Linked DNA regions of Homo sapiens: all the other regions are linked to region 2. Evidence: fine-mapped expression QTL. A gene starts in region 2. Each other region holds a variant in brackets. All regions are shown on one strand. Distances are between the middles of the regions. Region 1 has its middle 260 kb from the start of LINC00692. Region 2 holds the start of NGLY1 (N-glycanase 1). Region 3 overlaps NGLY1 (N-glycanase 1).

What was found. PIP is the estimated chance that this variant, and not a neighbour inherited with it, causes the effect.
Region 1: its variant is the best candidate, but not a certain one, in a credible set for the expression of NGLY1 in whole blood (INTERVAL, PIP 0.71).
Region 3: its variant is the best candidate, but not a certain one, in a credible set for the expression of NGLY1 in whole blood (TOPMed, PIP 0.86).

What each region holds. Positions count from the first base shown.
Region 1 is chr3:26,129,015-26,139,918 of GRCh38, forward strand. No RefSeq gene overlaps it. Among named protein-coding and RNA genes, the nearest start is that of LINC00692, 260 kb to the left of the region's middle. The variant AGAG/A (reference allele first, on the strand shown) is at 5,734.
Region 2 is chr3:25,781,456-25,786,455 of GRCh38, forward strand. NGLY1 (N-glycanase 1) reads right to left here and starts at 1,988. Exons shown (of 12, transcript NM_018297.4): 1 at 1,805-1,988. The coding sequence starts at 1,935. RefSeq lists enhancers at 1,338-1,417, 1,578-1,627 and a silencer at 1,938-2,177.
Region 3 is chr3:25,738,428-25,748,672 of GRCh38, forward strand. It overlaps NGLY1 (N-glycanase 1), which reads right to left. Exons shown (of 12, transcript NM_018297.4): 5 at 1,150-1,372. Among named protein-coding and RNA genes, the nearest start is that of NGLY1, 40 kb to the right of the region's middle. The variant G/A (reference allele first, on the strand shown) is at 3,431.

The DNA of each region.
Region 1 (10,904 bases), 350 kb after region 2:
CCTGAATTTGAATGTTGGCCTGCCTTGCTCGTTGGGGAAGTTCTCCTGGATAATATCCTGAAGAGTGTTTTCCAACTTAGTTTCATTTTCTCCATCACTTTCAGGTACACCAATCAAGTGTAGATTTGGTCTTTTCACATAGTCCCATATTTCTTGGAGGCTTTGTTTGTTTCTTTTTACTCTTCTTTTCTCTAACCTAGTGTTCTCGCTTAATTTCATTCATGTGATCTTCAATCACTGATACCCTTTCTTCCACTTGATCGAATCAGCTATTGAAGTTTGTGCATGCACCACAAAGTTCTCATGTCATGGTTTTCAGCTCCATCAGGTCATTTAAGGTCTTCTCTACACTATTTATTCTAGTTAGCCATTCGTCTAACCTTTTTTCAAGGCTTTTAGCTTCCTTGTGATGGGTTTGAACACGCTCCTTTAGCTTGGAGCAGTTTGTTATTACTGACATTCTGAAGCCTACTTCTGTCAACTCGTCAAAGTCATTCTCCGTCCAGCTTTGTTCTGTTGCTCGTGAGGAGTTGCAGTCCTTTGGAGGAGAAGAGGTGCTCTGGTTTTTAGAATTTTCAGCTTTTCTGCTCTGGTTTCTCCCCGTCTTTGTGGTTTTATCTACCTTTGGTCTTTGATGTTGGTGACCTACAGATGGAGCTTTGGTATAGATATCCTTTTTGTTGATGTTGATGCTATTCCTTTCTGTTTGATAGTTTTCCTTCTAACAGTCAGGTCCCTCAGCTGCAGTTCTGTTGGGTTTTGCTGGAGGTCCACTCCAGACCCGGTTTGCCTGGGTATCACCAGTGGAGGCTGCAGAACAGCAAATATTGCTGCCTGAACCTTCCTCTGGAAACTTCATCCCAGAGGGGCACCTGCCTATGTGAGGTGTCTGTCAGCCCCTACTGGGAGGTGTCTGCCAGTTAGGCTACACGGGGGTCAGGAAGCCACTTGGAGAGGCAGTCTGTCCATTCCCCGAGCTCAGACACTGTGGTGGGAGAACCAGTGCTCTCTTCAGAGCTGTCAGACAGGGACATTTAGGTGTGCAGAAGTTGTCTACTGCCTTTTGTTTAGCTATGCCCTGCTCACAGAAGTGGAGTCTATAGAGGCAGTAGGCCTCGCTGAGCTGTGGTGGGTTCTGCCCAGTTCGAGCTTCCCGGCTGCTTTGTTTACTGACTCAAGCCTCAGCAATGGCAGACGCCCTCCCCTAGCCAGGCTGCTGCCTCACAGTTCGATCTCAGACTGCTGCGCTAGCAGTGAGCAAGGCTCCCTGGGCATGGGACCCACTGAGCCAGGCACAGGAGAGAATCTTCTTGTCTGCCGGTTGCTAAGACCTTGGGAACAGCTCAGTATTTGGGCGACAGTGTCCCATTTTTCCAGGTACAGTCTGTCATGGTTTCCCTTGGCTAGGAAAGGCACTTCCTGGGTGAGGTGACACCCCGCTCTGCTTCGTCTCACCCTCTATGGGCTGCACCCACTGTCCAACCAGTCCCAATGAGATGAACTAGGTTCCTCAGTTGGAAATGCAGAAATCACCCATCTTCTGCATCAGTCACGCTGGGAGCTGCAAACTGGAGCTATTCCTATTTGGATATCTTGGAATGGACCTTACTTTGTAATAGATTTATAGTAAATTCTGAAATCAAGAAATGTGAGTACTTCAGCATAGTAGTTTGTTATTTTTTAAAATTAACTTTACTTTTTAGATCAGTTTTAGTTACACAACAAAATTGAGGGGAAGATACAAGACATTTCCCATGTACCCCTTGCCCCACACATGTGTAGTCTCCCTCATTATTAACATCCCTCTTCTTTTACAAGATCATTTTTGATATTTGGGGTTGCTTGAGATGCCATGTGAATTTTAGGATGAGTTTTTCTATCTTTGCAAAAATGTCACTGGGATTTTGATAGCCATTGCATTGATTCTGTAGATCACTTTGGTTATTATGACATTTTAACAATGTTAATTCTTCCAATTCATGAACATGATATGTATTTCCATTCATCTATGTCTTTTAAAATTTCTTTCAGCAATGTTTTGTTGTTTTCATTGTACAAGTCTTTTACCTTCTTTGTATCGTAGTTTTTATTCCTTAGTATTTTTTGATGCTATTGTAAATAAAAATTTTTGTAATTTTTTTCTGATTGTTTATTGTTAAGAGTACAGAAATGCAACTGATTTTATTTGTATTGGCTTTATATCCTGCTACTTTACGGAAGTCATTTATTAGTTCTAACAGGTTGTGTGTATGCAGGTAATATTTAGGGTTTTCTATGTGTAAGATCATATCCTCTGCAAATAGAGACAGTTTTGGAGCTGTATATTTTTACATCTGCATCAGATTTCATTCATTGGTTATATCATAATCTATCTTAGTCTTTTATTGATGAACTTTTAGATTGTTTGCAATATTTTGCTTATAGCAAAAATGATTTAAATTTATCACTTAGTGTCAGTGGGAGTAGGAAAGTAATTACCGAATCAAGAAACATGCAATCTTAATTTTCAATAGATAAAGCAAAACTGCTTCTCATTGAGAAAATGCCAACATATATTCCTCCCAGACATTAATAAGGATGCCCATATTATTATCAATTAGGTGTGTTACAAACTTTTTAATCTTAGCAAACCTGAGTTGTAAAAACTGTATCTCATTATACTTTTAATTTGAATTTCTATTTTTATTAGATATCAAGCATTTTCATCCAAACAGAGCCATTCGTATTTTCCTTTCATATAATTATTAACCGTTAAAAAATCCCAGCTTTACTGGGGTATAATTTAGATACCATAAAATTCACCCATTATAAGTATACAATTCAGTGATTTTTTTAAAGTAAAATTTACATTTGTGCAGCAATCACCACAATCTAGTTTTAGAACATTTACAGAACGCCAAAATGTTATCTCCTTCCCATTTGAAGATAATCCCCTATCTCACACCCAGCTCTAGGAAACCACTGGCCTGCTTTCTCTGTATATAAATTTACTGTTTCTGGATATTTTGTATATGTAGAATCATACAATATGTAGTGTTTTGAATAAGGTCTCTTTTAATTAGTATGACACTTTTAAGGTTGAAAATGCCATAGTATGTATCAAGACTTCATTTCTTTTTTTTGTTCGATAGTGCTCCATTGTATGCATATATCACATTTTGTTCATTTATTTGCCATTTAATGCAGATTTGGATGCTTTGCAATTTTGGGCTATCATGGATGATACTGCTATAAACATTCACTTACAAATCTTTGTGTGGACATGTATTTTTGTTTCTTTTGGGTGGATTCCAAGAAATAAAATTGCTGGGCCAAATGTTAAGTGTATATTTAATTTCATGAGAAACTATATTTTGCAAAATGGCTGTATTATTTACCTTCCCACCAGCAGTAAATGAAGACCCTGGGTCCTTCACATCTTTTCCTACACTTTGAAACACCTTTCTTTTTGATTATAGTCATTCTAGTGAGTACATAATGGTATCTTATCGTAGTTTTAATTTGTGTTTTCCTAATGGCTAATGATGCTAAACATGTTTTTATATGCATAGTGATCGTTTGTGTGTGTGTGTGTGTGTGTGTGTGTGTGTGTGTGTGAGGTCTATTCAAATCTTGTTTCTAGAAATTGTCCATTTCATCTCATTTGTCTTATTTTTTGGCATAGTTGTTTATAAATTCCCTTATAATGTTTTCATTTCTGTAGCATTGGTTGTAATATTTCCACTTTCATTCCTGAATTTGATAAATTATGTTTTCATGTTTTCCTTTGGTTAGTTCAGTTAAATATTTGCCAATTTTGTTGATATTTTGAAAGAAACAACTTTTAGTTTTATTGCCTTATTTTCCTTTTGTTTTTGTTTTGTAGTTCATTGATTTGTGCTCTAACCTTTATTTCTATCCTCTGTTTGCTTTGGGGTTAGTTTGCTCTTCTTTTACTATGCTCTTAAGGTAGAAGCATAGGTTATTGATTTGAGACCTTTCTTCTTTTCCAATATATGCCTTTAAAGCTGTAAATGTCTTTCTAAACACTGCTTAGCTGTACATCATAAATTTTGATATATTGTGGGGTTTTTCTGTTTGTTTTCATTCATGCAAAGCCTTTCCTAATTTACCCTGTGGTTTCTTCTGTGACTTGAATTTGGCAACTTGTGCCTCCTTTGTCTTTGTCTGTCTCACTCTCTTTTTATTGGTTAGTCTGGTTAAAGATTTGCCAATTTTGTTGATCTTTTCAAAAACTTTTAGTTTCATTTTTAGAATTTAGAAGTGTATTGTTTAATTTCCAAGTACTTAAGGATTTCCCATATTCCTTTTAGTTGTTTATTTCTAAATTCCATTTTGGTTGAAAATACACTGTATGAATTCAATATTTTTAAGTGTGTTGAGATTTGTTTTATGGCTTACCATATGATCTCATCCTGAAAAATATTCCACGTGCACTTAAAAAGAGCATGCATTCTGCATTCAATGAGTGGACCATTCTACCTAAATTAGTTTGAGTTGGTTGATAGTATTGTTCAAGTCTTGTATATCTTTACTGATTTTTTTTAATATAGTGGTTCTATCAATTATTGAATCTTTGGTATTGAGTCCTCCAACTTTCACTGTTGAATTTTCTATTTGTTTATTTCTCTATTCCTTTATTGCTTCTTTTCTGTTAAGACAATACTTTTAGTATGCTACTTTAATTGCTCTTTTGATTTTTAAAACTAGTTTTTGAGTTATTCTCTCAATGGTCAATCTAGGAAATTATAAAATGCATTTTAATTGATGACAATTTCCTCTAGAATAATACTAGCTTAATATTTGTAAAATACAGAAATTTTGCTTCAATATAGCTCTATTCTCTCCCACTCCTTTGTGCTATTATTGTTACATATTTTTATATATGTTATCAACTTAATAATAGATTGTATAATTATTGCTTTATACAGTCTTATGTCTTTTAAATAAATTAAGGGAAGAAATGTAAAAAAATGCTTTTAGAGTTTTATATTAACCTGCATAATTGCCATTTCAGTGTTCTTTATTTTTTCTTATGGATTTGAGTTACCTTCTTGTGGTATTACCTTTCAGGCTGAAGGTCTTCCTTATTCTTTTTCCTCTCTTCCCAAGAACTCTAAGCAGATGGGTTTAGAGTTCAAGAACCTCTCACCAAAGAGAAAAAGACTTGGCCAAGAAGAAAGGCTGGCTCTTAGCCTGGGAATCAAGATCTATCTCTGTGTTTAGGGAGAGCTTGATTATGATCAGGTGGGAGAAAGTTGAATTTAAGTGCAAAGTAGGAAGCTGACCAACAGTCTATATCCTAGGTTTAGGAATGCTGAGTTCAGTGTGAATCTTGTCACATGCAAAACAGGAATATTCTTGCTTGCATAACTTGTTTCAAGAAAATGAAGAATTCTTTGTGATTGATGATGATTCTGCTTCCTTAGGTGAATACAAACCAGTAGCCAATGGTTTACTGGCCTGATTTGTACTGTAGGTCAGCATCTCAAACCAAAGACTAAATTTCCCAAGGATGTTGCCAAAGTATTCAATTCAGACAAAGAGAGAACCAAAACTGTGTATTTGAAAAAGCATACATCCCTACAAATTAAGTTTGTGTGAAGATTTGAACTAAATTATGTATTAGCCAGGAGAAGACAACAAATTCAACAACAAAAAAATGAAAACAACATTTACTAGTGTGCTGCTTCATTTTGGCATTGTTTACAATAAATAAAGCTAAGAATAAAA[AGAG/A]GAGAGGACAATTGTCTTGATGAGACATGAAATTGATATTCCTATAGAACTTTACTCTTAAAAAGAAACATTCTATCCCAGATTAAGTTGTGCCTCCATTAATACGTGACATTACCCCTGAATGCTTTGTTTGGTACTCACATTATTTGAGTACTGGCTCTATAATTAGTCATTTTTGAATATCATCATTACTGTTACCAAGGCATACAAAAGATTTGTTTTTAAGTTTCAGGAGTTCTATTTTAAATCTTTTGCTCTACATTTTTCTTGGCAACACTCTTTTATTTCTTTTAAATTTATGTTCTATTTTATTTTCTGAGAAATGTCATGAAGTATTTTATTTTTTCCTAACTTTTCCTTGATGTTGGAAAGCTGTGAAGATTTGTGAAGCTGAAACAAATTCCTTCTTAATCATTTTAGACATTTCTGTAATAACACATGTACATGGTTTCTCAGCTCTTTTGATTCATTGTACATTAGAAACATTCCTTTAAGGTTAGTAGCTATAATTTCATTTTGTGGTAGAAGAAAAGAACTGCAGAGGAGTTTGACAGCTATTTTAAGACAATGGGAAAAAGTTTGTATGTGTTTTTGGATGATATGAGCTTAATGAAAGCTTTTTATGCTTCCTGCTCTTGCATGAGGAGGCAGGTCTACCAAAAATGGTAGATCACAGATTGACAACTTTTACTACTTGTCAAAGAGACTTCAGGAGCCACAGGGTTGGATGGATAGTTGCTGAGGGCAGACTGTCTTCTGGAGATTCTCTGTTAAATTTTGCACTAAGAGTTCCTCGGAGTCAAAATAGTATTCAGAGTATCAGTGAGTATGTAAACTGATTCTTTTCTTCCCATTTCAACTTCATATTCTGCTTTATTGTAGACATCATTACAGAAGTTAATGGCCTGCAGAATAGCTAATTATATTAGTACACCACTTGAAATAGGATGCATAGAATTCTGACCCCATGGTCCCCCTCCCAAATTTACATCATTACACAAAAGATAAACTTATCAGGGGAGTGAAAGCAGTAAGCATATGATAAATTACTTCATAGACTTAATAAATATCAATTTGTAGCCTGTTCCTTTTTTTTTTTTTTTTTTTTTTTTGCTAAGGCTAATATATCTAGCATAGTGTTGATCAGCTCCCAATCTGGGAAAATGCCAGACTGTCGATCACTTTTATAGAAAATGAAGCCATATATTTATTCAACAAGTATTTATTGATCTTCTGTTATGTGTATCAAGCACCATGTTAGATGCTGGGTCTACAATAATAAGATAAACAGACGAGACTCATTTTCCCATAGAACTGTCAGAGTTATGAGAAAGATAGACAATAAAATAACTATACAAATAGATATTTATACTATGTAGACATATAAAGTTATGTAAGGGCATAAAGCCAGAGCTAATGTTTTGCAGGATAGGGGAAGGATTTGTGGCGGAAGCAAGTGCTTCAGGTAGAGGGAGGAGTGTGTGCACAATCTTCACAATGGAAGGGAACAATTACTTGTCTGAGGAACCTAAAATGGCAATGCAGGAAACACAAGGAGAAGAAATGAAAGATACAAGACTAAAAAGATAGGCAGGATCAAGGTCATAAAGGGTACCAAAGGTTATAAAGAAGATTGATTTTTAGGACTTCTTACCTTAACCTGTGGGAAAATAGTTTCAGTTTAAAATTATCAGTTAGGTAGGCAAATTCTTAGCTTAAAGGTTTTTTTAATAATTGAGACACTCTCTCTTGAAGGAATAATAAAATTAATGATATGCGTGTTGTTGCATGTGACTAAAGAAATACCGCTAATATCCACAGAAGAATATTTTCCTTTTAATGTAGTGCTATATTACCCATTTCTGGATGTAAAGCTAATTATTTGTCAAATTAAAGTCTATTATTATCAGCAATATTATTATCTCTTGGAAATAATTGATAGCCTTGGTTTGCAAGCTCTGGTGTAACACAGGAGAATACAGTTTATCAGATTCAAAAAAGCCTGTAATAAAGGTAATTTGGTGGATTTAAACATTAGCGTGAGAAATATAAATGGAAACAGAGCAAAAAAAAGAACTTGTCTTTTGTTGTTTCCTGCTGTGTCATTAGCTAGTCTTCATATTAAAAACATTCTGTCCTAATAGGAGTGGCTTGATAATGTATTGGTCTCCATTAAAGAACAAAAATTATATAAATGAATCATTTCTTTGTAGATGAGGCAAAAGGTATAGCAACTTCTACTGAAGTCCTTGTGTCTATCAATTGCTTAGACAAGGTAGTTAAGTTAAGGAATATGTGTGTGTGTGTATGTATATATATATATAAATAAATAAAATGATTCAGTTGAAATAGCAAAGAAACTTAAATATGACTCATAATATTGGATTGCTACATAACAATTTACCCTTATAGTCTTTAATGTTTATTTTGTCTTTAATGTTAATGCAAAATTTATCTCTCTTCTCTTTCATTAGGAAAGTTTAGAATAAATCCCCTTCCACCCCTGCCCCTGGTGCCAAACTTGGAAGAATGACTTCATGGATGGAAGTAAGTAAAATGTGGAATCTTGCACTCTTTTAAGGAAGCTGTTACTGGTTGCAAGACTCCTTGATTAATCTGGAAAGGAGAATGAACTGAGTGTTACAGACTTCCCTTGTGGTGGACTGCATTCCACTGAATTTGTTTCTAGCACTGTAAAGACATTTGTGCGTTTTTGGAGTGGTGTTTCCATGTTTCTATTTTGTGGGTAACATATACCCCTCAAGGAACACTTGGGGTACTTGTTGATGATGATGGGTGACAATAAGCCCATACTGCATCTGGCTGAGCTAACTTGAGGTCAGGTTTCACTCTTGCATTCACCCTCTTCCCCACCTTGCCCTTCTAATCCTAACACAATTTTCTTAGTATTTAGTAATGGAGAAAACTCAATTTCTGTTTTCAAATTCTCTGTTCTATGCTCATGTGTTTAAGGCACCTCACAAAATACACAGAACACCCACTTCATAATTTAAAAACAATTATTGAGCACTGATATGGTTTGGCTCTGTATCTCAACCAAAATCTCATTTCGAATTGTAATCCCCACATATTGAGGGAGGTACCTGGTAGGAGGTGATTGGATCATAGGGGCAGTTTCTCCCATGCTGTTCTCATGGTAGTGAGGGAGTTCCTTCGAGAGCTGAGGGTTTTAACAGTATTTGGCAGCTCCTCCTTTGTTTGCTGTCTCTGGTCTGCCGTCATGTAAGACATGCCTTTGCTTCTCCTTCACCTTCTGCCATAATTGTCAGTTCCCCGAGGCCTCCCCAGCCATTTGGAACTGTGAGTCAATTAAACCTCTTTTCTTTATAAATTATCCAGTCTTGGGTATTTTTTTTATAGCAGTATCAAAATGGACTAATACAAGCACGTGTTATGTGCCATCCATTATGATAAGATTTTACAAGCATTTTCTTTTTTTTCTTCTCTTTCTCTTTTTTTTTTTTTTTTTTTGAAACAGAGTCTCACTCTGTCACCCAGGCTGGAGTGCAGTGGTGCAATCTTGGCTCACTTCAACCTCTGCCTCGTGGATTCAAGTGATTCTCCTGCCTCAGGCTCCCGAGCAGCTGGAACTATAGGCACGCACCACCACGCCCAGCTAATTTTTGTATTTTTAGTAGAGATGCGGTTTCACTATATTGGCCAGGCTGGTCTTGAACTCCTAACCTCATGATCCACCTGCCTCAGCCTCCCAAAGTGCTGGGATTACAGGCATGAGCCACCATGCCTGGCCTATAAGCATTTTCATTCGATGCTCTCAATGAGCCCAAAAGACAATAATGTGATCCCTATTTTACAGATAAAAATACGAAGGCAAGAAGGATGAAATAATCTTTCACTGCTAAGAAGTAAGATAATACAGATTTGAACCCATGGAGGCCAAGTGCAGAGCCAAGCTCCTAGCCATTTGACAATACTGCTATATTGAGCAATTTCTCTTCACTATATCAAAAATTAATATTTGCTGAGAATTTTAGCCTCTACTTGTGAAAAAAAAGTCATAGTGCATAAAATCTCAAGATATCATATCCAGACCTCTTCTAGTATAACAAGGGAAAAGGAAAGGCTGATATGATAAAGGCAAGCTCCAGTTTCATAACTCATAGAAAAGAGTAGGAAAAGAGGTTCATTTTACCCATGTCACTCCATCCTCCAGGCTGGCAGAGCTAAGCACCGAGAAAAATCCCCTTGGCTTTGAGTTCCCGTTGTGGGGGAAAAGGCGAGCAGGAGGAATCCCAGTAGCCTTTGCCGTTAATAATCCTGGCAGTCCTTGCTGCTGGCTGTGGACCCATGGCCTTAACCATCCAGGACCCCTGCAGTCTTTGCTGATTAGATCCCAGCTGTTGAAGCCACCTAAACTCCATCTTGCTGCACCTTCCTGGAGCTGGAGCTTTCCCAGTCCAAGGAGATTTAACAGAGTCAAATGTTAATCTCCTTTGGCAACATCCTCACAGACACACCCAGGAACAATACTTCACATCTTTCAATCCAATCAAGTTGACATGCGATATTAACCATCACTTTACCCAAAGTGATCTACAGATTCAGTGTAATCCCTATTAAAATCACAGTGGCTTTCTTTTCAGAAATGGAAAAATAATTCTACAATTTGCATGACACTACAAAAGACCCCAAATAGCCAAAGCAGTTTTGAGCAAGAAGAATGATGGTGGAGGCATATATTTCCTGATTTTGAAATATATTACAAAGCTACAGTAATCAAAACAGTACGGTAGTGGCAAAAACAAACCAAAAACAGATGTATAGACTAATGAAATAGAACATGGTATATATACATACACACACACACACACGTATACATACAATGGAAGATTATTCAGCCTTAAAAATAAGGAAATCTTGCAACTTTTGACAAAATGGATGAATCTGGAGGACAATATACTAAGTAAAATAAGCCAAACACAGAAAGACAAATATTGCATGATCTTACATATATTCAGAATAGGAAATAGTCAAACTCATAGAAGCAGAGGGTAGAGTGGTAGTTATTAAGGCCTGGAAGGAAGGGAAAATGAGATGATGTTGGTCAAAGGGTATGAAGTTCCAGTTTCACAAGGTGAACAGTTTGACACTTGAAATTTGCAAAGAAGGTAGATATTAAGTGTTTT
Region 2 (5,000 bases):
GGCTGTAGGGACATTAGACTTCAAACCCATCATATCCTCTTTCCTATCCTTGGAAAAGCAACGCACAAAGACTTTCTTAAACTCTTAATTTCTCAGCATTATTCCAGTGTGTCCACTATCCTTTGCGCTCATTGTCACACCCCTCATCTTTCAGAATCTTGAAGCTGTGAGGCGGAGGTTGCAGTGAGTCAAGATCGCGCCACTGCACTCCAGCCTCATCAACAAGAGCAAACTCCGTCTCAAAAACGAAAATCAGCAACGAGCCATTAGTAAACATTCATAATGAAGATTATGATGCTAAATGTCATTATTTGCATGCAAAGGTTTCCCCCTCATACTAAACCTCAGCATTTTGGGTTTCACTAGATTTAAAGCAGAAGTGAGGCTTCATTACAAGGCCACCTCTCTTTTCTGACTAGTGGGGTTTTAAATAGCCTGGTGGCTTTCCAGGTGGTAAGTCTCAGCTAATGGGCTCTGGAGAACCCAGCCTATCAGTTCATTTATGGAGTCCCTTGGCATCCTTGTACTGTGAAGAGCTGTAAGGCCTCAAAGAGTAAAAAAGGTGAGTTGAGAAGGTGTCACAGAGCACGAAGGTGGTCCCCACACAGGTCACAATTATGTAGCTGTGAACAGGCCACATGTTGCATCTTTCATAGCATCTGCCACAAAATAAGGGCTCAATATATTTTCCCTTCAATTTACTTTAAAAATCATTACCATTGCCTAAATGAAATATTACTGACATGGATTTTAAAAACTGCACATGTAACTAATGTCTAAAATTGGGTCACGTGAAACCTATAACCTTGAAACTGAGAATTTCCTTTTAGACTTCATGACAATATACCAAACACTTAATGCACCAGGGGCTGAGGGGAACAGAGAACCTAATTAATCACGGTGACCTGATAAATGAGGTAACACCCCTAAAGCAAGTGGCTCTCCTTTAACCTCAGTTCCATTTCCCTACCCCCCCACACCATGTCCCTTCAGATCATTTGATCTGAAGAGTTGAGGTGGGTACTTATTCAAAATGAATAATCAAACTTGCCTCCCAATTCCCAAAATCTGCAAGGTCCCTTAGACCTCTAGAAGTGCAATTTTGCTGACAGGAGAATGAAGGAAATTACTCTCATCCAAGGCGATTACCTCCACGAATTCTTAAAGGGTTATGTTACATAGTAGAATCCAGGTATTAATATAAAAACTGTAACTTCAAAATACTATAATGTTTCAATCAACAAAAGTGGGCAGAAAAAAAATTAAAAATTTTAAAACCCACCACTTCAGAAGCATTATGCTTTAGTACTCGGATAGTCTCAACATGGGAAGAAAACATCACTTTGTCAGTGAGTAACTTCTGATAAGTATGTGGAAATGTAAGCCACTCCGCTCGAAAAATGCACGCAGGGGGAATGACACGCGCGGTGCGGTTACCGTTGTGTCCCGATATCTGAGGCCGTTAAACGACGAGAAGAGCGGCAGTGTCTGAAGCACGCCTTCCTACCTCTCCTCCGCCCGGCCCCGCTTCCGGGACTCCAGTTCACCCGCAGCACCCTGACTGCAGGTGCCAAGTCACAACTGCAAAGAAACTTCCTTTTCTCGAGCGGGGGTGGGACTTGGCCGGGTCCCGAGGCCCCTGGCCGGCGGGCTCGGACGTTAGGAGCAGAACCAGCTCCAGGTCCCGGTCTGTCCGGGCGTCGCTGCCCTCTGAAGCTCAGGCCGGACGCCCCAGTCCCTGGCCGAACAAGGTGCCGCGGCCCACCCACCCCGGTACCCGCCGTCCGACCCCGTTGCCCTGCACCTGAGGATGTTGTCAGCATAGGTGAGCAGCAGCTTGGAGGCCTCCAAAAAGGTCTCCGGGGTGTTCTGGCAGAGCTCAGCCACGGCCGGGGACGCCGAGCCTGAGGAGCTGCCCAATGCCGCCGCCGCCATGCTTGAGCGCCAGCGGGCGCCGCCGCCGCCCCTCGCTCTCCGCGTCCCACACTGAGCAGGCGCCTCAGCGCGCAGCAGCTACCGCAGCCACCGGCAGGGGCGGGGTCCTCGGCCGGCAGGGGCGGGGTCCTCGGCCGGCAGGGGCGGGGTCCTCGGCCGGCAGGGGCGGGGTCCTCGGCCGGCAGGGGCGGGGTCTTCGGCCGGCAGGGGCGGGGTCGGGGGCCTGGGGCGGGGTCGGGGACCGGGGCCAGGAGCGGGGGAGCTCGGCTGGGAGCTACGGCTGCCCCTTCGCGGGGGGCAAGGGGCTGTTCGGAAGAAGGTGGGGGGCCTCGGCCGGCAGGGGCGAGGTGCTTCGACCCAGAGTTGGGGCCTGGTCGTACAGGTTGGGAAGGGGTTCCGCAGGGAGAGGCGGGGCCTGGGCTCCGGGGCTGAGGGGTGTGGGCCTGGAGGAGGGGGATGTCGAGTCCTTTAGGACGGAGGAGCTCGGCTGGAGGGGAGGCCGGCTTTGGTCTAGAGGTATCGGGCGAATGGTGCTGGCACGTGCCTCTCAGAAACCCGGATCCCTTTGCGCTCCGGGGCCAGCCTAATTGATCCAGCTATTAAGGTGGAGAAACCGCATGTACCTCCCTCCTTTCCCCACAAATAAAACCACCTTAGAGCCTTCTCTTCGCAGATTGTCAGGACGTTCTACATAGATGTGGATGAAAGACTACAGAAGGAAGGAGCAACAAACGTCAAAAACAAAACCATGGCTATAAACTCTGCTGGGTTTGTTATATGGATTCTTTTCAGAATTTGGCTAATGACTGAAAATCTAAGTTCCAGCTCAACTAGTATATGATTCCTCTGTAAGGAAGTGTATTTTTAAACCATAGGTTGCGACATAATAATGGGTTGTGGATTCGGTTTACCGCGTGGTGACCAGCGTAAAACACATGCATAATAATTACGCAATATTATAGAATGTCGGGGGCGGGAAGGGAATAAAAATTTGCATCCCACACAGTAAGGGTAAGTAATATTTTGTGACTTGTTTTTTAGGTAGATCATGTGATCAAGGTCTTTTATTCCTCTTAGAAGATGCATCCCTTACTACTTTAATCCAGTCTCTTCCCCACCATGTTCTTGAAAGTGTACTTTACCAGTGGCTTCCTTCTTTGCAGAAATTCCTTTTCAACCTCACGAAGTATTTTTCTTGACTTTATTTCTTAAGATAAGTGATTTGCCTGAATAACCTCTTTTAAATTTCTTGATGTTTCATCTGTTTACTTTTAAGAATTGAAATTTTCTTCCAGAATCTCCGAACAAGACCCTAAGCTATGACATCCAGTTCAATGACTATTCGTCTCCCAAATATACGTACGCTTTTAATAAATATGTAAATCTTTGGACCACCTTCCAAGTATGGTGTGTTCAACAGATAGTAGTATGTTACTACCGTCTGTAACTAAAATTTTCAGGGGCTTAACACAAGAGTAATTTCTTTCTGGCTCATATAACACTTTAATAATGCAGGTGTCATAATGTCAGTGGACCCAGTCTCCTTCCATACCTTAGAACAGGGGTCAAGAAACATTTTCTGTAAAGGGCCACATAGTGTTTTAGGCTTTGTGAGCCATAAGGTCTGTCTCAACTATTTAACTCTGCCTCTGCAGCTGTTGCTCCACAGACAATACTTGAAAATAAATGGGCATGGTTATGTTCTAGTGAAATTTTATTTACAAATCCAGGCAGCCTGCTTGGACAAAAAAAAAAAAAAAAAAAAAAAAGTCACACCTACTTTTAACCACATGAGCCCAGAAATGACACACAGCATTTTCTCTACCATATCATTACTAAGAATGAGGCCTCATCAAGATAAAAGGGGGTATTTCAGTAAGGCCAGATTTACAAAAAATAAAAAAAAAATTTAAAAACACATAAAAAGATAAAAGGGGAGAGTCTGGGAAATGTAGTCTCGTCCAACTACACAATGGATTGGGGGCTTGGGTCTGGAGATATAGCTATCACAAACTTTATTCCTCTTAATTTGGGTTTCTTTTTCCATTGATACATTTATTTATCCTTTACTAATTATATGAGAATAGTATATATTATACAGTACTTGTAACTTTTAAAAATGCAACAGAACTTTTTTTTTTTTTTCAAATAAAATTTTAGGGGCTGGACATGGTGGCTCACGCCTGTAATCCCAATACTTTGGGAGGCCGAGGTAGGTGGATCGCTTGAGCCCAGGAGTTCAAGACCAGCCTGGGCAACATGGCAAGACCCCATCTCTACAAAAAAAAAACAAAAACAAAAACATAGGAAGATTGTCTATATACAAAACACCAAAGTGGAAATGCTCTGGTATTGAAGCAGAGGTGTCAAGTGAAGGGCAGAAAGCTGTCAGCTAAGGCTTTCCCCTGACAGATAGAATGGTCATAGGGTACTTTTGTGGGGGAACAAAATGACTTTTGTTTTTCTCTTCATAATAGTTTGTTTCCTCAACTAAAACGCTATCTCACTGTAAGTTATCATTAGTTTTGTCTTCCCTATTTGATTAAAAGTCTCTTGTGCCATCTGTCTCAGACTGCTTTGCACACAGCAGGTACTGAATAGAGTTGTTGGTTAATCACTCAATGTAGTCACACAATAGTGAATCACTATACAAATTCCTGAAAGACTTCAACTCCTCCCCTTGCTAATGGTTTTTATGGAGGTTAACTTTTTAATATCACCAAACCAATCGTGGGGAAAATTTACAGAGTTCTTTCTTTTTTGTTTTATTAAAGAATAGTGTTAGCCAGGCGTGTTAGTGCACACCTGGAGTCCCAGCTACTTGGGAGGCTGAGAGGCAGGAGAATCGCTTGAACCCAGGAGGCAGAGGTTGCAGTGAGCTGAGGTTGCCCTACTGCACTCCAGCCTGGGTGACAGAGCGGGACTCTACCTCAAAAAAAAAAAAGAATAGCGCCATGATATGTCAACTCTAAAAATGATGTTTTTAATAAAGGTGAAATCCTGGGGAAAAAAAAAATCTTTATTTTGGAACAAAAATAAATAAATAAAAGAACAAGAATTTCAAT
Region 3 (10,245 bases), 40 kb before region 2:
GTGTTGAGATGGGTTTTGAACTGATAGAGCTGAGCAGGAAAAGTGCTGCAGCTGAGCAGAGAGGTCAGCCACGTGCTTTGGAAGGAAAGGAAACAGTGGCATAAATGAATGGGCTCTGCGATGACAAGTCTGTTAAGCAAATGCTTAACCAAGCATTTCTTAAGCTAAATAAATGAATTTATAACTTAGGTAATTAAATTTTTTTTTTTTTTGAGACAAAGTCTCAAGTCTCACTCTGTCGCCCAGGCTGGAGCGCAGTGGCACAATCTTGGATCACTGCAACCTCTGCCTCCCAGGTTCAAGCAATCCTCCTGCCTCAGCCTCCCCATATAGAGAAGAGCTAGAGGTTAAAACAAGCACATGATTAGAAACTATGTCCTAAGCTAAAAAAAATTAGATATTTTTAAAACGTGGTATCTTTCCTTGACTGATAATACAACCAGACTTTATAAACATTGCCAATTCAGAAAATCTGAAAACAGGCTTATAAATTAAAGAATGGAAATTAATTTAAAATTTAAAATGTCCTTAGTTTAAAATTTAGAGATATGAGGAGTAGGTTAGGTTGGGCAGGGGAAGCACCTAACTAAAACAAACTTCTGCTAATAAGACTGATAATAATAATGCTGATTATTGTGAGAGTGAATACAATTATGTGTTTAAAATAATCATCCGATGATAATATGGAAGGTAAAAGTATACCTCAGCATTATTATAAGTATTGTTAGCTATCAGACAGTTAAAAATTAGGAATTAAAAAAGTAATACAAGATTTATAGCATTAAACATGTTATGACTATACTCAAGTTATACTTTAGAACAAGAGTCAACAAATTTCCTATAAAAGACAGATGGTGAATATTTCAGACTTTGTGGGTCATATCATTTCTGTCACCATTATTCAACTCTGCTTGTTGCAGCATAAAAACAGACCATAAGCAAATAAATCAGCATGGTTATGTTCTAATAAAACTTTACTTACAAAAACAGGATGTCGGCTGGATTTAGCCTGCCAGCCACGGTTTGCTCACCGGTATTTTAGAGGAATATATTTCTGATAATTAAATATTAAAAAGTTCATTTAGTAAAAACTCTCTTCTAACTATTTCATTAAGAGATTATTCTGATTTTACCATCCAGGGCACCCACCTTGGGAATCGATTGCTGAACTGGCAGGCATCACAGTAATGATCTTCCACTTCCTTTGCACCCCACTTCAGCTCATCATCACTGGGCAGTAATGATCTATCTCTAGACCTAGTCTGTCCACCACATTTGCTGCACAAAACGTTATTCACCCAGTGAAAAAATTCTTCCTTAAACCAGTGCAAAAGCTCCAGCAAAAGAAAATCCTCATCACTTATATTGATACCTGAGAAATTAAGGGAGGACCAAGTAAGAGCTAAAACTGACAAAATTTAAACTATCCAAACATATTTATTCTCAAATACGAACCTGAAAAATATGAAAACATAAGATGATTTTAAGGTTTTCACTAATAAGAGGCAAGAAGAAACTGTCATTTATTAGGCACTAGGCTGAAATACAATGACAAGTATAACTGCACATTAAAAACAGTAGAACATTTACCATTTTATATCCTCTAACTGACATTATGCATTAACAAGTGAGCTGAACACAATGACCTCTTAGGGAACTATAGTCAGTTAGGAATTGATCCTGAAGTACAAGGGAGGTAGAAAAATAAATTTGATTTTGAAAAACATTTAAAAATGGGAAACATTGAATTTGTTATCAGGTATATACACAAGTAAACATGAAACAATCACAAAAGGCAGAAATCACAGAATTCCAGACATTTAAAAAATCATCCTATTAGCCTTTCTATTAGGGCTTCAACTGTACAATATAATCCATCCATGGATACTCATCCCCAAACACATAAAAACACAACCATATCTCTAGTATATATAACAACCCTAGTAAGTTATAACATGACAGATAATATACCCACTTTTCCATAAACAGATCTCTCTTGTTCATATTCAAGACCATGGTATCTCTGGCAAGAAGGGAAGGAGAGGGAAAATCAATCTTAAAAACATATATAGGGGGTTCTCATCTCTATCTTTAATGTTTTATGATTAAAACAGAGTGATAATAAAACATAAATATGAAGGACATATATAGCATAATGATAAAATCTAATAAAGCTTGATGTTGGTCATAGGTATATGATATATTATACTTTGTTCTTGTATTTATGTTTGATGTATTTCAAAATAAAAAACTACAGAAAAAAAAACTACAGAGAATGTAAAAAGGCCAGAAATATTTATGTTCCTGGAGGGAAAACTCAATATTTCTAAAGCTGATAACCTTCCACAAATTAATCTATAATTTAATATAATCCCAATTAAAATTATAAAATATTTTTTCATAAAATTTGACAAGCTAGCCAGGTGTGGCGGCTCACAGCTCTAATCCCAGCACTTTGGGAGGCCAAGGTAGGCAGATCATCTGAGGTCAGGAGTTCGAGACCAGCCTGGCCAACATGGTGAAACTTCGTCTCTACTAAAAACTACAAAAATTTTCTGGGTTTGGTGGTAGGTGCCTGTGATCCCAGCTACTTGGGAGGCTGAGGCGGGAGAATCACCTGAACCTGGGATGCAGAGGTTGCAGTGAGCCAAGATCATGCCATTGCACTCCAGCCTGAGTGACAGAGCGAAACTCTGTCTCATTAAAAAAAAAAAAAAAAAAAAAATTGACAAGCTAACTACAAAATCCCATGTGAAAGAGAAAATGCACAAAATAGCCAACACAACTTTGAGCAAGAATCATAAGGTAAATTTGCCTACCGTGTATCAAGACATATTATAAAACTCTAATATTTAAAACAATGTGGTATTAGTGAAGAATAAACAGATCAATGAAACAAAAGAATTCTGAAAGACAGATTTCTAAGCAAATGCACAGTATTTAATAAAGTTAGCATTTTAAAGCAGCTCTAACAGGATGGACTGTTTCAATAAATGATATTAGGACAAATAGCTATCTATCAGATCCCTACTATAGTTCATTAAAAAAAAACTTTCTCTGGAATAATATAAAATAATAGAAGTTTATAGGTGAGTATGTTTATGTTTATGACTTTGGGTTAGGAAGGTCTTAGGCAAGCAAGATACAAACTGTAAAATCAATAATAAAAAAATTAAATTTTCTTATGTTAAAAATAAAAACTTTTGAATTTCAAAAGCTACACTAAAGAACTCTGGGAGGAAAAATTTGTAACATGTCTAACAAAGAAAAGATAAATTTCTGGACGGGCACGGTGGCTCACGCCTATAATCCCAGCACTTTAGGAGGCTGAGGTGGGAGGATCACTTGAGGTCAGGAGTTGGAGAACAGCCTGCCCAACATGGTGAAACCCCGTCTCTACTAAAAATACAAAAGAAAAAAAAAATTAGCC[G/A]GGCGTGGTGGCAGGTACCTGTAATCCCAGCTACTCAGGAAGCTGAGGCAGGAGAATCACTTGAACCTGGGAGGCGGAGGTTGCAGTGAGCCGAGATCGCGCCACTGCACTCCAATCTGGGCGACAACAGCAAAACTCTGTCTCAAAAAGATAAATTTCTAAATACATAAAGAACTTCTATAAATCAGTAAGAACATTAAGAAACCCACTAGAAAAATTCACAAAGTCCATAAAAGAAATTCAATACTTTCATTAAGTGGAAACAAATATTCTTAGACACTTCTAGTATAAATTGGAAGGCAATTTGGCAGGATCCATTATAATATAAAAGTATTACACACACTTGACATTTCAGTATCTATCCAAGAGAAATACTTGTGCATGTGTGCCAGGAGACATGGTTTACAAGAATCTCCACTGTGGTGGCATTTAGAACAGAGAAAATGGAAACAACCTCTATGTCCATCAATAGGGAATTGTATAAATAATAGTGTATGTACAATCAAACACTATGGAGTTAAAAAGCTGTCCAATACATATTTGTAAATGAAAAACACCAAGGAGCTGAATATATATGAGATGATAAATTTTAAATAAACCCCACACAACTTAAACTATTTTTATAGATAATTATTTAAGGTATAAATATCCAGGACAAGACATGAAAAAGAACAGAACTGAATGGCAGGGAGAGTTTGGCGTTTCCCATATAATATGAAAGCTTTCCAACAGGAAGATATTCATGAATTAGTTACATTAAAAACAAAGTTTTAGAAACAGAGGACTGTCATTCTCCTTCTCAGTCTAGTGCCTACCATGCAGCAGCTAGAGTAATCTTCTTAAAAGTACAGGCCAGATTATGTGACTTAAAAAACCCTCCAATGGGTTTCCATCTCATTCAAAATAAAATTCAAAGTCCCAACTCTTGTTCTTTCAGCTGGCTCCCCGTCGTAGGCTAAAAAATGGCCCTCAGAGGATATCCATGTCCTAATCACTGTAGCCTATGAATGTAGTTACCTTATGTGGCAAAAAAAAAAAAAAAAAAAAAAAAAAGGTCTTTGCAGATATTATAAAGTTAAGGATCTCTAGATGGGGAGATTATCCTGGAATATGTGGATAAATTCAATCACAATTAACCTCATAAAAAGCAAGTAAATGGAGATTTTACACACAGAGAAGGCAATGTGAAGATGGGACAGAGAGAGATTTGAAGATGCTGGCCTTAAGACCAGACTGTTGCAGCCACAAACCAAGGACTGCCAGCAGCAACCAAAAGCTGGAAGAGGCAAAGAACAGATTCTCCCCTCCAAAAGAAGCATGGCTCTGGGGATACTTCGATTTCCCGCTGTGATAATGATTTTGGATTTCTGCCTTCTGGAACTGTAAGAATAAATTTCTTTTTATTTCACCAAGTTTGTGGTAATTTGTTATAGTAGCCCCAGGAAACTTAAATACCCTCTTCCCTCTCTGACCTCAAACCCTATCTCCTCCTGTCTTGTTCACTGGCTACAGCCACCATGCTCTCCCTGCCATCTCTTAAACTTGCCAACCTCACTCCCACCTCAGGAGGCCTTTGCAGTTGCTCATGCCTTCTACCTAAAAGGGAAATCATTGCTTTTTAGAGAAGCCATCCCTGAAAATCTTGTATCAAACAGCATCTTACTAGTCGTCACTCACTCTGTTCTCCCATTGGTCTTCCTAGCACTTTTCACTAGTGTGTGTGTGTGTCTCTTTCCATAATGGTAGGTACTTAGTTTTGTTCACTGCTATATCCCCAACACTTAGTGTTCTGCTTGCTATACACTAGATGCTTAATAAATATTTGAATGATGAAAGGACTGAACAAACATGCCTCAAAATATTACTTAGAATTGTAATTGTTCACCAAATAGTCATTATCAAGACCAAGAAGAAAGGAAAGGAAAACAGAGTATTTGTACTTCTGTTACATACTCCAGGTATAATCCAGCTGAAAGTAGGACTACTAAACAGTAACACCCAATTAAGGGTCAATGTTCCTCATTTAAACAATATCCTTAACTAGGGGCTCAGAGAAATAAAAGTAGATTCCTGTATGATGAAAGCTCAGAAATCTCAGAGATAAGGGAAGCCTGATTTAGATGCTAAATTCTGTGAATACTGGGTTTATTTCAAAAATATAATTAAGACTTCAAATTTCTAAAGTTACCATCTTCAAAAATACCATATAAACGTAGATTTCTAGTAACTTATCAGTGACAAAATAAAATCAACAAGTTTAGACCTAACTCCATTCTCTGAAAACCACTTCAATATACAAGAGAATGAGAAAATGGGTAAAAACATCAGTAGAGGTAGCCTCATCCATGTTCTCCATCTCATATCTTCACATACAATTTAGTAGGCCAAGATATATTTTGTTACCACTTTTCAAAAATGGGTTCTTCCTCCTCCAAAAAGATGTTTTACCTGTATCTGGAACATGCAATCATGACAAACCTTCAGTCTACCAGGCCAAAGCTATCAAATCATGCTTCTCTATCTCATTTGGCAGTGCCACAAGGTCCCCATTTCTGCATCAAACCAAAACACTTTCCCCAGTCCATAGACCCAGAATATGATTTTTGTCTGGAAAGGAAAAAACAGTGCACTGCACTAATGAAAGAAAATCACCAACTTGGCCAGCGGGGGCTTCGTCATCATCTCAGTGCCATTCACTCACTGGGGCAGAGACTGATGGTGGCCATATAATATCCACTTGCTACTTCTTCCTCATTTATAGAATTTCAATTTTGGAGGGATGACAATGCACCAGTTAAAAAACTACAGATCCCAACTTCCCTTGCGGCTAAGTGTGGCTAAATGACTAAGCTTCATGTTACTCCAAGGAAGACTACTTCAAGAGAAGAAGCTCAAATTAGAGATAAAACCTTTATGCCTTTTCTCTGTTTCTTCTTCCTGATGTTTGGTCTGGAAATGTAATGGCTGGAGCTGCAGCAGCCATTTTGGACTACAAGGTGATGTGAAGGATGGAAAACATATACATCCGAGCCGAAAAGACAGAAGGCACCTAGGTCTTTGATGATAGCTCACCATTAGCTCCAGACTGACTACTTCCATAATTTCTTACATGAGAAAATAATCTCTAAGCCACCAGTCATTTTACTCATAGCACAACCTAATCCTAATTGATATACTCATTATGCCTACCATACCACTTATTTCACTATATAAGTTTCCTTCACTTGTTACTCTTCCTCTTCCCATATCCTGCTGTTTCTAAAATATCGCCATCCAATAGAATTTTCAGCAATAATGGAAATAATTCCTATTCCTACTGTCCAGTAGGGTTGTCACTAACTTGTGGTTATTGAGTAGCTGAAATGTGCTGAGTGTGACTGAAGAACTTGATTTTTCATCTCATTTAATTTAAATGTAAATATCCATATGTGGCTAGTGCTACACTGTTTTCTAGAACCTCTGTAATCCTACCTCTCCACCCTGTCCTCTCAATTTTAGCAATCTCATTTACCTGCATGGCTTTACCTATCATCCTGAAGTGTATTTCAAGGCTTGACTTCTTATCGAATTTCCAGGCCTATGTTTTCACTTGGCAGTCCAGATAGTAGGCACCTCAACTCACTCTTCCTTTCCCTTTAAAACCTGTTTCTACTGACTCCTTTAATTTCCTAGTTGCCTAGATTCAAAGTTACCCAGTCATCTTTGACATCTTCCTTATATATACATGATGCCTTATCCTATTGACTGCAAATTCCACATATTCTATAACCCCAACAACTTTCACATCCATCTTCTCCCTTGTAATCTCAACCCTCTGTTCACCCTCTTATCCCTCTTATGTAAATTAGATTACTATTGTGTTTTAATTTTTCTCTCCTTGTACTCTTTTGATTTTAATTCATTTCACAAGTTATTACTAGATTAATCTTCCTTAAATACAGTCTGATGTCACTCAGAGTTTCAATAGTCAATCCTGCTGAATTACCTATTCGAGAACACCTGAGAAATTATTTTCTGCTTTCTGATGAATAAGGTTATGTAACATTTCTGCTGTATGTTCAATTATAGTCACAATATAACATTAGTCTTTCGGCCAAGACGTGTTTCCTTTGAATTTCTTTGGTCTTTACTATTTCAAACCTTATTAGAAATATGCTTTGTTTCATTTTACTAATTTTTTTGAAAACATTAAAAATGAACTTGGTATACACTGCTCTGTCTGAAATTCAATGTCAACCAAAATATGGTTTCAGCCTACTTGATCTTCCACTGCTTTATATACACCCTACCCTACACACAGTCTAACTGTATTATTCATTGTTCCCAAATAGAGCCTGTCCTTCTCTGCCTCTATGCATGTTGATCACTACACTTGGAAGAAAATCCCCAATCCCTTAGTATGTATTTTGACATATTTTATAAATCCCACTCATCCTTCATGCCCTTAAAAAAAAATCTTTTACTGATTTTCATAATTTTCACTACTAATCTGCTGTGTCATTTCTTTCCTATTTTAATTAAAACTTTTTAAGCGTGAAAGAATATATACACAGATCTTAAATACACATACTCCAATGTGATGAAGTTATTGATAGTTTGTCTTCTCCCTATTTTCCAAATTTTCTACAACCCCTGTATTACCTTTATAATTAGAAAGAAAAAATGCTGGAGCAAATGTTAGCAGGGAACATCAGCAGATTTTTATGGGAAATGGACTTTAAGTCTTAGCTAATAGACTTGAAGGATTCTTGGTCCACTGATAAGACCATTCCCACTGTGAGGACAGATGGACAAATGCATCAGGATAAACATAATGTTCACCTAACTAATGCTCTTTATTGTAGATTTTTGCTCCTTGAGCAATTTCCTGGTTGTTATTTGCCTAGAGAGAGGAAATATGATGGACACAAACAGGAACATTCTGTCTCTATGCTATTTCTCACTGAAGTTTATTCATTTAGCAACATAATGGTTTTATTTTTTATTTTTTGAGACGGAGTTTCGCTCTTTTGCCCAGGCTGCAGTGCAGTGGTGCAATCTCTACTCACTGCAACCTCCGCCTTCCGGTTTCAAGCGATTCTCCTGCTTCAGACTCCCGAGTAGCTGGGATTATGGGCATCTGCAACTGCAAATTAGCCCGGCTAATTTTTGCATTTTTAGTACAGACGGGGTTTCACCATGTTGGCCAAGCTGGTCTACAACATAATGTTTTAAAAATTATACTTCATACATTACATTTGTTGGACTCTGCTTTACACTCAGTTGATCTGTATATTTGAATTCTCATCTTCTATTTAGCTGCTTCTTAAGGCAAGGCTATATTATTATCCTGTCTCTCCCCTGCAGGGCCCAGCCCAATGACTCAAACACAAAACATGTTCAGTAAGTACCTGATAAACAGGCATTTCTATAAGTCATCATATAAAGGACCACAGTACTTTGAAGCTGGACAGGGCCTGTATAATCACATATTAATAAACATTCTTATTGTACACACAGGAAAAAAACTGTTAATACAAGAAGAGAACAACTGTCTTAAGGTTAGCAGGCCTGTAGCAGAAGTAAATCTAAGGCCCAAGCCAGTCATCAAAAATTGAAAAATGGCATAGTGTAATATTTTTAAAAAGACAAAAATTACCAAAATACAAAGGGTAGCAAAATATATAAATGACATTTGTGAAAATTGGTCAAATGGTTAAAAAAGGAAGAGACACATATAGTTAAGCCTTCAGATGGATTTCTGGTTTCATCTTCCAGTTTCTAGCAAGCAGAGGTCAATACTCTCACCTTTAAAACAATAAAAAGCTCAACTGAAATCAGTGACTTTTCTTGGACCCATTAGAGAACTGAGGTCACAGAGTGAATTATCACCCCAAAGTCCAAAAAGATACACAAATATAGAGAATCACAGTCAAAATCTGCTTACATGGAAAAGAAGTCACTAGAGCCATAAACTGGTAAGGACATTTAAATAGCAATTTTGACAAACTGCTGGAAGCTGAGTATGGACTAGCTTGGGAGTAAGAAATTCAGTCTTGGGAGAGGTCCCCACACTTCTGTGCATTTTGTCTGCAGGAAGCCCACCAGGTTTTCACAATGAAGAACCAAGAAAAATCCTTTGTGGCTCTAGAAAAGATGGGAAGAGTAAGAATTGTGAGGTATACCCAGAGTGTTCTTCACAATTAAGGCCTCTCCAGGGAAAAAGATTTTACCAGAGTCTTCTCTGAACTGGGGGAAGGACATATATTTCCCTGACTCCAGCCCCTTGTAGCCTTCCTGTCTCACCTATGGGGGTAAAAAGGCTAACAAACACTTGTGAAAGGCACAGGCCCAGAGATATAGGCCCACTAAAATACTGAGATTTAATCAAAAGATTATAGAACCTTCTCCTTGATACCTTACCATCACACCAATAGGGCTCCAGTATAATAACAATGGATTACAACTAAACGAACACCAAGCAGGATAAATGCAGACTCTAATGAGGAGTTCTTAGGGAAGCCTAAAGACAATGGGGGAGACGACAAGAACACTGGAGGAATTTGAAGCCTCTGATACCTACGGCTAAAGCAAACAAGAAAACAACTCTAGTTAGATTAATTCCTAGCTAGATTAGCATAAAACCTTACATGAAAGGCCTGTTTACCTCAGTTCCTATTATCCAGTACATCATGCCCAGCTTTTACATGTATTTTTTCATTTATTTCTAAAAATTATCATTCTTATTTCTACATGAAGAAACTGAGTCATAGAGATTAAATTACTTGCTCAGTGATGCACAGGAAGTAGCAGAGCTGAATTTACACAAAGACAGT